Linked DNA regions of Homo sapiens: region 1 is linked to region 2. The links come from fine-mapping of genetic effects on gene expression. A gene starts in region 2. The other region holds a variant in brackets. All regions are shown on one strand. Distances are between the middles of the regions.

Evidence for each region. PIP is the estimated chance that this variant, and not a neighbour inherited with it, causes the effect.
Region 1: its variant is the best candidate, but not a certain one, in a credible set for the expression of KIAA1549L in sun-exposed skin (GTEx, PIP 0.70).

Annotation. Positions count from the first base shown.
Region 1 is chr11:33,515,621-33,520,995 of GRCh38, forward strand. The region is part of intron 1 of KIAA1549L (KIAA1549 like); the gene reads left to right. Among named protein-coding and RNA genes, the nearest start is that of KIAA1549L, 140 kb to the left of the region's middle. The variant T/C (reference allele first, on the strand shown) is at 2,153.
Region 2 is chr11:33,373,810-33,379,184 of GRCh38, forward strand. KIAA1549L (KIAA1549 like) reads left to right here and starts at 2,299. Exons shown (of 21, transcript NM_012194.3): 1 at 2,299-3,080. The coding sequence starts at 2,843. RefSeq lists silencers at 2,185-2,244, 2,275-2,514, 2,655-2,754, 2,885-3,164.

The DNA of each region.
Region 1 (5,375 bases), 140 kb after region 2:
GTGTGGAAATGGTTACTTTGCATAGCAACTGCAGCGTGGGATACAAGTCTGTTTTCTGGCCCATCTCTGTCAATCCTGCTGATCTTTTCCTCTTTTTCATTTGGTTTCTCAATCAGTCTTTAACCTCCTCCCTTTGCTTCTCCTTGCTTCATTTTACCTCCTCTATCTCTGAGTCAGTGCTCCAGAAAAGTAACGTGATGCATCTGTTGGTAGCAAGAACACTATTAGAGGGAATCCTCTAGTTCTGGTGCTAGACCTTTGGCAAGTCACTCAAGCATTATTGGTCCTAGCTTCATCTGAAATTGAATGCAGTTGGACCAGATGCTAGAAGAAACCTCAGAGATCACCTTCCCCAGAGATGCTAAACATCTGTCCAAATTCATGCTGCCATTCTGTACTACAGCACCCAAGGCAGACATTGCTAATTGATCCCAGAACCCTTCCCTGCCAATCCAGGACTGTGCTTAGAATTCTTCATAACAGTCTAGGCAGCCACTACCAATCAGCTGGAGGTGATTCTTTTTTTTTTTTTTTTTTTTTTTTTTTTTTGAGACGGAGTCTCGCTCTGTCGCCCAGGCTGGAGTGCAGTGGCGCAATCTCGGCTCACTGCAAGCTCCGCCTCTCGGGTTCACGCCATTCTCCTGCCTCAGCCTCCCGAGTAGCTGGGACTACAGGCGCCCGCCACTACGCCCGGCTAATTTTTTGTATTTTTAGTAGAGACGGGGTTTCACCGTGTTAGCCAGGATGGTCTCGATCTCCTGACCTCGTGATCCGCCCGCCTCGGCCTCCCAAAGTGCTGGGATTACAGGCGTGAGCCACCGCGCCCGGCCTGGAGGTGATTCTTGAGATGTGATCAGCTATATCTGAGCGAGAAATCTGAGCAACCAAATTACCACAGCTATATCTGAGCAAGAAGTTGAGGCCCAGAAGTCTACCAACTTTTCTTACTCCTATCTTCCTTACAGGGATGGATATGTGAAGCCATTATTCCTAATTCTCTGAAGTTATGAGGGAAAAAATAAATTCCCTCCTCTGCCTTTTTCTTCCTAATTATTCAGTCTTAAAACAAACAAACAAACAAAAAACACCTGTTTTCTTTCTGACCAATCCAACCTTTAATTTCTCCTATGGCTGAAGAATTGGCAACTTTTTTTTTAGCAAAGGTATGGAATCAGCCACATTTGTCTAAGCTCCCCAGAATTAGACTGGCTCACTTTGCAACTGTGTGGTGGCAGGCAACAGTGAGAGTTATTTTACTTTTTGAAAATATGTTTTCTGTAGTTATATTTAGACTGAAGAAAGATCCTTGCATTCTCAGCTCTAATTATATTCAATGTGCCTAATTGCTATTACTCTCAAAGATGATATTGAGTGAGGTCGCATCTTCAATTCACGTTTCTCATTTATTTTTACAAATGACACAGCTTTGGAACATCTGCTCTGCCTATAGAACACTCATTTTTGCAGATGATGCAGCTGTAATGGCTGGTGGCAGAATTGTTTCCTCGATGACGATGCTAGGGTATGTCTCTCCCTTTCCGCCTTTCCTGCTAAGATGCTGTTTTTAAATTCACCTTCTGGAGTTCATTTCCCCAAGATAGATGGGTTCACACTTCTAAGGCAGCATATTTCTATTATTTCTGCTGAAGGGCTGCCTCCTGGAGTAGTTAACAATGGCAGCCACCCTGTGGCAGGTCTACCTTATGTAACGCCTCTGTAGCTGGGGGAGCTGTAGGTCTGGGAAGAAAGGAGACTAATGCAAACATAAAGATGAAGGGAAACTTGCCAAGATCATACCTAGGGTAATATCCATATCCTGAGTGCATATGAGCCTAGAGTTGGCTTTCTAGTAAAAAGAATCCTTGGTGTTGATAGAGAATGTGGCCATTATGCCTTATTCCCCCTTGGAAAGGGGTAGTGCCCTAAGCAAATGAGGAAGAGTTGGGTTCATATAGACTGAATTAAACTCCTTTATGTCATTATTATTAATGTTTAATTCCAATTTCAAAATGTTATAAGTTAATAAAAGCGAGGACATAAATGCTTCTATTTCTGGAATCAACCACCCATTTTTAGGAAATACAGAGGACAGAGGAACATGTTGAAATGAGTCATGAATGTGTATCACCACAGTCCAGACTGTGGGAAACTC[T/C]GCAGGTAAAAGGGCTCAGGCTCTTCTTCAGGAGCAAAAGGAGTGGAAGGGGAGAACTTAGAGATTAAGAAACTTAAAAGACATTGCAGGCAGGCGCGGTGGCTCACACCTGTAATCCTAGCACTTTGGGAGGCTGAAGTCGGTGGATCATGAGGCCAGGAGTTCAAGACCAGCCTGGCCAAGATGGTGAAACCCCATCTCTACTCAAAATACAAAAATTAGCCAGGTGTGGTGGTGGGCACCTGTAACCCCAGCTACTAGGGAGGCTGAGGCAGATAATTGCTTGAACCCAGGAGGCAGAGGTTGCAGTGAGCTGAGATTACACCATTGCACTCCAGCCTGAGCAACAGAGCAAGACTCTGTCTCAAAAAAAAAAAAAAAAAAAAAAAAAAAAGACATAGCAAAGGGAAAATTTTTTTCTTGGGCAAGATTAATCTATGTCTACAGTGGTAAAACTACTGAAAAAATTTCTTGTTTTAAAACATGCTAAATTAGCAAGTTCTTGATTGGATTTCAGCTTCTCATGCTACAATTGGGAAACTGAGGCTTAGATAAAGTGATTTGCTTTACATGTAAATGGGAGCATGTCGGGGAATTGCAAGCAGAATCCAGATCCCCTGGCCCATTGTGTGATGTTTTCCCTCTTTCCCTTGAGTATGATCCTGTACTATACATTAACTTTCTCTTTGAGTTCATTGAAATAGATAAAATCACAGCAGAGTCAACTACATATTGGAGACTACTTTGTGTTCATCTGTTCTTTTAATTGCTTTTCAAGGAAAGTTGGCTCTGGCTTTGTCCCTTGTATAGTGGCTGTAAACCTAAGAACTATGTCATACTGTGACTTTTTAATTCATAGAATAAAGTTACTATTTTGCTTTCTACTTGCTATGATATTATAAAGTCTGTTTTATTCTTTTGTGCTATTAAAATGTTCTAAAGTTGCCATTAAAGCTGTAAAATCTAACTTTGGTTATTAAATTTTATTTTCCCCTAATAGTTCTTCTGGCATTGATTTAAATTACAGGTTGAGTATTCCTTATCTGAAATGCTTGGGAATAGAAGTGTTTCAGGTTTCAGATATGTTTTGATTTGGGAATATTTACATTACACTTATCGAGTATCCCAAATCTGGAAATCTGAAATCCAAAATGCTCCATTGAGCATATCCTATGAGTATCACATTGACACTCAAAGACTTTTGGATTTTGGAGCATTTCAGATTTTGTATTTTTGGATTTTTGGATTTGGGATGCTCAACCTGTACTCATTTTCACATGTGTAGCACATTTTCTTGGGGAATCCAATCTTAAATAGACTGGATGTTTTGAACATGAGAACTGTCTAATGTAGGTTAGCATGAAAAATAACCAGTTAAATACTCAGAATTCTGAATAAAGATGTGTATCACTACCCTGCAAGTGATCTAGCCAACAGATTTACCCTACTGAAATTAATTTAGTGTTAAATTATTCAATATTTCAATCCATTTTTTTTGAGAGAGTAGATTTTAAGGAAGACTCTATAATAGAAATGTTGATTTCTATATGCTCCAGTGATATATATTTGTCATAACTTATTTTTATTTTTGAGAAGAGCCAGGATTTCAAGCTCAAATACAAGTAATTAGCAACTTAACCAATGTGCTACAAGAAGCATTTGATTTCTCTTGGTATTTGTAAGAAGTCAACAAAACATGTCACTATTTCACCAGCAAATGGCTGTAACAATTATTTACTGTGAAAATAATAGTGTTAACAATTACTTCAGGGTAGGAGATAGAATTGTTTGTTATTCATCTTGAGGGTAGGTAGTAGTTTATGTTTTTAACTTCAAGAAGCTGTGCATATATAATGATACTGAACAAGAAGGGTGTAAAATCACAAGCTATATAAAATTCTGACCTCAGAACAACTGTTCTTTCTTTAGAGGGGGGTACATCAGAGAAGGAGAGCATTTTCCATCATTTAAAAAGTCTTCATTTAGGCAGTTTGTCCTTGGCCATTCAGACAAGCCCCTCACAACCTTTAATGCCAGAATGTTCTGTGGAGGCTGCCACTCTGGTGCCCTCCTCACATTTCCTCTTTGCCTCCCCGACCCCAGCAGTAAGAGGTACGAAATATCCTTCTCTATGATACTTACCTATCAAAGGAAATATCGGGTCGCCATCTTTTTTTTTTTTTTTTAACAACTTTACTAAGGAATGACTGACATACAAAAAGTTGCAGATATTGAATGTGTATAACTTGATGTGTTTGGAAATAGGTATACCATGAAACCATCAAACCATCATCACTATCCATGCCCTGAACTTATCCACTATCTCCCAAAGTTTCTTCTCCCTTCCTTTTTTTTCCTTTTGTGGTAAGAGCACATAACATAAAGATCTAGCGAATTTTTAAGCATACAATACAGTGTTGTGAATCATGGGCCCTATGCTATACAGTAGATCTCCAGATCTTATTTATTTTGTATAACTGAAATATTGTATACCCTTTGACCAACACTTCCCCATTTCTCTCCCTCAACAGCCCCTAGTAACCACTATTCTACTCTCTGTTTCTGTGAGTTTGGCTATGTTAGATTGCACATATAAGTGAGCTTGTGCAATATTTGTCTTTCTGTGTCTGGCTTATTTCACTTAACATAATGCCTTCTTCAAAAAAAAAAAGGTAGTTCATTGATTTTCAGACTTGGAGCTCTATGAGCTCATGGACCAGTGAAATGAAAAATTTCAGAAGCTCAGTTTAGATTTACTAACTTCTCATTTGGTCAAGTAAGGGCATTAACAAAACAATAGCTACACATGCTGTCATTATTGTTTAGAAAACAAAGGAAATATTGACACTAAAATGGAGGATTATCCATTAGACCCAGAAAGGCAATTGGTGGACATACACCCCCCACCCCCAACACACACACACACACACACACACACACACACACACACACACACACACACACACACTCCCTCTCTCTCCCCCTCTCTCGTAATTGTTTTTTCTTGTTTTGTCTTGGTTGGGTGAAAACTTTGCATCAAGGATTGAAGTTTGAACTGGCATTCAGAAACCTTGCATTGAGTGTTTTGTTTTTAAAAAGTAACATCTCAGCCTGGTGCAGTGGCTCATGTCTGTAATCTCAGCATTTTGGGAGGCTGAGGCAGAAGGATTGCTTGAGGCCTAGAGTTCTAGACCAGCCTGGGCAACAGAGCAAGACCCAATAT
Region 2 (5,375 bases):
CTGTCCAGCTTCCTCAGTTCCTGACTCACCATCAACACCACAATTGTCCAGGTGCAGAAAAGGGGTGGGTGGGGGAAGCTGTGGCTACTAAAGGGTTCGTGTTTTCCCCCATCACATCCACCTGTGTGTTCTCCGGAGCTCTTAACTCAGAGCCTGATACAGGATTGGTGCTCCTGAGAGTGACTTATCTTCCCCTCTCCCTCTCCTTCAGATGTGTCCAAGGCCTTTCACAACTTGGCCTCAGCATAAGAGTTCTGGGTCTCAAACAGGCAGGCCCACTGCTCCAAGACCAATCTTCCTGCCTCCTTCCCTGCCTCTGCTCCGCCCACTTCTCTCTCCAGGGGCTCCCTTTTCTGCAACACCTAAGCGAGTCTATACCCTGCCCTTGTTTCAGTTCTTCTTTGCCTGACATCCTCATTCCCCATCGCCTTGTCCGTGGGATCACCACCGGCTGCAGGGCCGTTCATCTTGTGATGCTGCCTGAACCATGACCATGGGCTGGCTTTCTCACAGTGTCTCCAACTAATTTAGTGAATTGCTTTATCTCTTCAACTAGACTGCATCTTTCCCTTCCTCCCTCCCTCCCTCTCTCTCTCCCTCTCTCTCTTTCTTTTGAAGGAGTCTCCCTCTGTTGCCCAGGCTGGAGTGCAGTGGTGCAATCTTGGCTCACTGCAACCTCTGCCTTCCAGGTTGAAGCAATTCTCCTGCCTCAGCCTCCCAAGTAGCTGGGATTACAGGCATGCACCACCACACCTGGCAAATTTTTGTATTTTTAGTAGAGACAGGGTTTCACCATGTTGGCCAGGCTGGTCTCAAACTCCTGACCTCAGGTGATTCGCCTGCCTTGGCCTCCTAAAGTGCTGGTATTACAGGCGTGAGCCACTGCGCCAGGCCAGACTGCAAGTTTCTTAACACAACCCAAAACAGCCCAACTAGTTTAATTAAAGAACAAAATTAAATCATAACCCCCAACAAGGCATTACTATATTTCAACAAATCTTAGACATATTATAAGAACACATCTGACTTCTGAAAAGTTAACATGTGAAAAGTATGTGTCTTAGATGAAATGTGGTGTTATTTCTATCCTGCAGATGCTCAATAACTAGAACCTAACACTTTTCCAGATCCCCTGGTTAAGTTGCTGTGCCCTAACACACCAGGCACGCTCTGCCCCGGGATGTTAGCCTTTTTGGTTCCCTGTATCTGGAATGCTCTTCGCGCATGGCTTGTTCTCACCTCCTTCAGATCTTGGCTCAAACGTCACCTTCTCAGCGAGGCCTTTCTTCACAATGTTTAACATTTGCAACACCCCCTCCCCACGTTTCATTCTTTTACACTGATTTTTCTTTACGGCATTTACCAGTCTAATATTCTATTACTTATTTGTTTATTGCGGGTGAACCCCCACTAGAATGTCAGCTCCAGGAGGGCAGGGATTTTGTTTATGGCTGTTGTCATTGGCACATCGCAGGCAGTCAGTAAGGATTGTTGAGTGAATAGCGTCTGAGCTTTACCGGGTCAAGGATGTGTGTGTTTCCCCGCTGCTTGTATCCTCAGTGCCTAACACAGATGCTGGCAAACAGCGGGCCCGTAATAGATACTCAGTGACTGGGGATGGATGAGGCGCCTATGAGCCAGGTCACTTGCTAAGGCCATCAAGGCTAGCAAGGGCGAAGAGCAGGGGACCAACTCAGGTGACGCCTGGGCCTTTTGTCCCTCTGAGCAGGAGCTGCCTGACTCTCCTGTTTGGGGGTGTAGACTTTTTTGGAAAAACTTCCCCCAGTCTTCCCAGTGCGCAGTGTAATGCTTTGCACGTAGTGTGGCTGCAACAAATATTTATAATGTGTTTTAATCCAGCGTGTTATTGCAACTAGCCCACAGCCGCTTGAGCTCCTCAGGGGTAAACTGGCATGCAGCTGTCCGTTGAACCCTCGGAGAAGTAGTGAACAAACAGCACAAAGCGCGCCCGCCCTTCTACAAAGAGCTTTTCCAAAATCCAGGCGGAAGAGCTTTCCTGCCGCTTGGGCACGTTGACCATGACCCCCCTCCCCGGCCAGACGACCTCTCTCCCGCCAACCTTCCCTTCTCTAGATGGGGGACAGGAGGGGAGGGAAGCCCTCCCCTTAAGGACCTCCGCTGCGCGGGAGCCGCCGGGAGGGGTCCCCCTCCTGGGTCTCGAGCCCGGCCGGGCGCGCGGGAGCGGGGAGCGCGCGGTGGCTCCGCGCGGGGCTGCGCGCGCGCGCCGGCCTCGCCTCCTCGCCTCCTCGCCCGTTCCGGAGGCTACGTGCTTTCTTTGTCAATGAGGCGCCGCTCTGAGCTGCGGTAGCACTCGCGGCCCGGGAACCCGAGCCGGAGCCGGGGCTGGAACCCGAAGCCCAGCGAGGAGCGAGGAGCGAGGAGCCAGGACAGCGGGGCGCCGAGGCTGCAGCGGCGGCGGGAGGGAGGGACCCGAGCGCGCCCCGCGGCCGCCACCCCCGTTCCCGGCAGCCTCGCCCCCTAGTTCTGCAGGAGCCGGCCCGGGGGAGGGGGCCCCGGGCGGCGCCCGTCCCACCCTCGCCGCCCCAATCGCGCCGGCGCGCGGCGACAGGCACCGTGGGAACCCCGGCCCGCACCCGCCGCGGCTCCATGCGGGCCCGGCCCCTGCGCGGGTGAAGCCGCGGCTCCCTGGAGCCCGCCCCGGGCGCGGCAGGACGAGCGAGCCAGTCGCGCCGCTCGGCGCCCCCTCCCTCCGGCGCCCGGGCCGTGGCCGGCGATGCCCGGTGAGGACCGGGGCGCCGAGGGCTGGGCTCCCCGGCGCGGTGCAGAGCGAGGCAGCGGCCTGGATGTGTGAAGCGTCCCCATGGCTCCGCAGGAGGCCAAGCCTCAGGGCTCAAGGGAAGCTGGGCCCGCGACGCGGGGGCGCGGGGGCCGGCCCGTGGCGCGTGGGCTTGGTCGGGCTGCCTGGGGAGCCGCGCGCTGCACGGGTGTGAGGGGCCCCGGGGCCGGCGCGTCCCACGATGCGCCCCCGCGGCCACCGACGCTGCTGCTGGGACTTCTGCTGCTGGCGGCCCTCCTGGAGCACGGCCAGGCCGACCCGGGTAAGCGCTCGGCGGCGGGGCGTCCGCGGAGGTTTCTGGAGGAGCGGGGCGGCGGGACGGGACCCACACCTGCCCAGGTGGCGGTGGAGAGGTATTGGCAACACCGGCCCTTTACTGCTGCAACAGTAGGCGAACTGTCAGAAATCTGTCTTTCGGGAAGGCACTTTGGGCGGGGAAGAAAAAAAAAGGAGCAATCGCCTCTTCTTTTTGGACAAGTTGTAGAACCTTCCTAGTGGTCCCGCAGGCACGCTTTATTTAGAGAAAGATGTGTGTTTAGGACACCTTAAACGGGAAATGTATCATTAGAACACGTTTCAGGGTGGCAAAGTCCCTGGTATTTTGGGCTCTCTGTTGAGTGTCCACTTTGTCTTAACTGCATGAAATGGCTAGAGAGTTTTAGGCAATCCGCGTGTCGGCTTCCCAAATATCAACACAGTTTCTCCTGTGTTGATAGCGGAACCCTTTTCTTTTGGGAAGGAGGTCTCTCCAATAATTGCTTGCACCTTGCAAAGGGATGCAGGCGCTCATTAAGTATATAATCCACTGTTTGCAGGTTAGTTAAAAATAGTCATGCTTGGCTTGTAGACTTCCAGCAATCCCCAGGAAATAGATTTCTGTAATTCCTTGGACAATTTTGAGAAATCTGTTGTAAGTATTCTAGGTGGGGGTGGATTTTTCTGCTAAGTGTGCTTCAAAACTTAAGCTGTGCAGTAAGCAGTTGTCCTGGAAATAATAATGATTACTGCCTGCACTTGGAAAGGGCAGGCTTTTGTGTTTCTGACGAAATTCTGAGCTCTTGATACACTGCCTTATCAAGGAATATATTTCTCACTTCAGATAATGTGTTCCTGTAGTTTTGCATTTTTTAGCAAGGACTAATGACTTCTTCTTTCTCAGAGTACCCCCTCCCCCAAATTAGATTAAAATTCCTAATTGTAAAGGGGCTGACATTGTTTTAGATAAGAGAGTTTTAGGTTAAAAATATTTCTCGTCTTCAGCAGCTTAATTCAGAGCCCATTTTCCTTCGATTCACTTAAAGAGTCACTGACAGGTGGTGCTTGTGCTTGCGAGTTACTGTCAGATAATGTTCTATTGCGATTATAGTGGTTACAAAGTTCAGGAATCTTTGGATGTGTGCCTCAGACTTGAGAAAAACCTCTGACGAATTTTAGCCCCCGATTTTTATGCCTGTAGCAGTTTTTAGTGATGTGTATTTGGCATAATTGTTAAAAGATAAGGCCTGAGAAAGACCCACGTAAATACCTTGGTATTCATTGGCTCAGAAACATACATCCTGTTTTTGATTAAAGGATATCAAGTCCTTGGTCGTTTTTGTGAACTGCTTATGAGATGTTTGCTTTGGGATGATGTTCATTTGTTCAGCCATCTGTAATATGTGAAACTGGCTTTCATGTGTTGTTCTTGTTCAGCCTGATGTTGGGTGATTTCCTCGGATCAGTTTTGAATTTCTGATTTCCCTTCTGACCTTTGTACCTTGAGCCTTCTGAACCTCCCTGACTTTCCTTGGCTCCTCTTTCAGACCGCCAGAGCCTGATTTAGAGGACTTCTCATCCACATTGTTTGGGTTTAGCCCTGGTGTCCTCTTTCTTTTTCCTTTCAGTGTGGTGGTCATGGGGATACGGGGCTGGGAAAGATGCTTTGATTACAATGATGGTAAAAATAATTAAAAGTTGATGTTCCTCCCCAGAGTCCTCTCCGTCTTTCTCCATCTCATCCGAGCGACTCGTTGCTTCCTCTATGCTTTTTGGATGCACTTTCTGCTGTCCCCCTTTATGACCAGCTTCCCGTGGTCCAGCCCACCTGCGGATTCACAGTCCACCTCTGAGCTCCATGGTTTTCTGTGGGTTTGCCACTGATTCAATTCCATGACTCAGTGGAAGGGTTAAACACTGGGTTCCCTGTGTGTAACTCTTACCTCCTATCTGCTCTCATTTGTTCTCTGATTTCCACTGGAGGCAGTTTCACCCCAGGGTAGGTGAGTCCTGGGCCTAATGCAGGGCATCCTAAGGGGTTTGTGGGAAGAAGTGGTGTCAAGAGGGAGGCAGGAGAATGAATGACAATTTCTGGGGCCTTTGACTTTCTGCAAACAACCTAGTTTGGAACTTTTTCTGAGGAGTCGCTGCGGTTTGGTGTTGCCACTCATTGTAGAATGCGTCCGACCCTGAGATGTCTGAGATCTTACTCAAAGTGCTGGCTTGCTACAGTCCCATCATTTACATGGCTGCTCTCCCTTGTTGTTTAAGGAAGGCTAAGCCAGACATTTGTCTTGGTTGA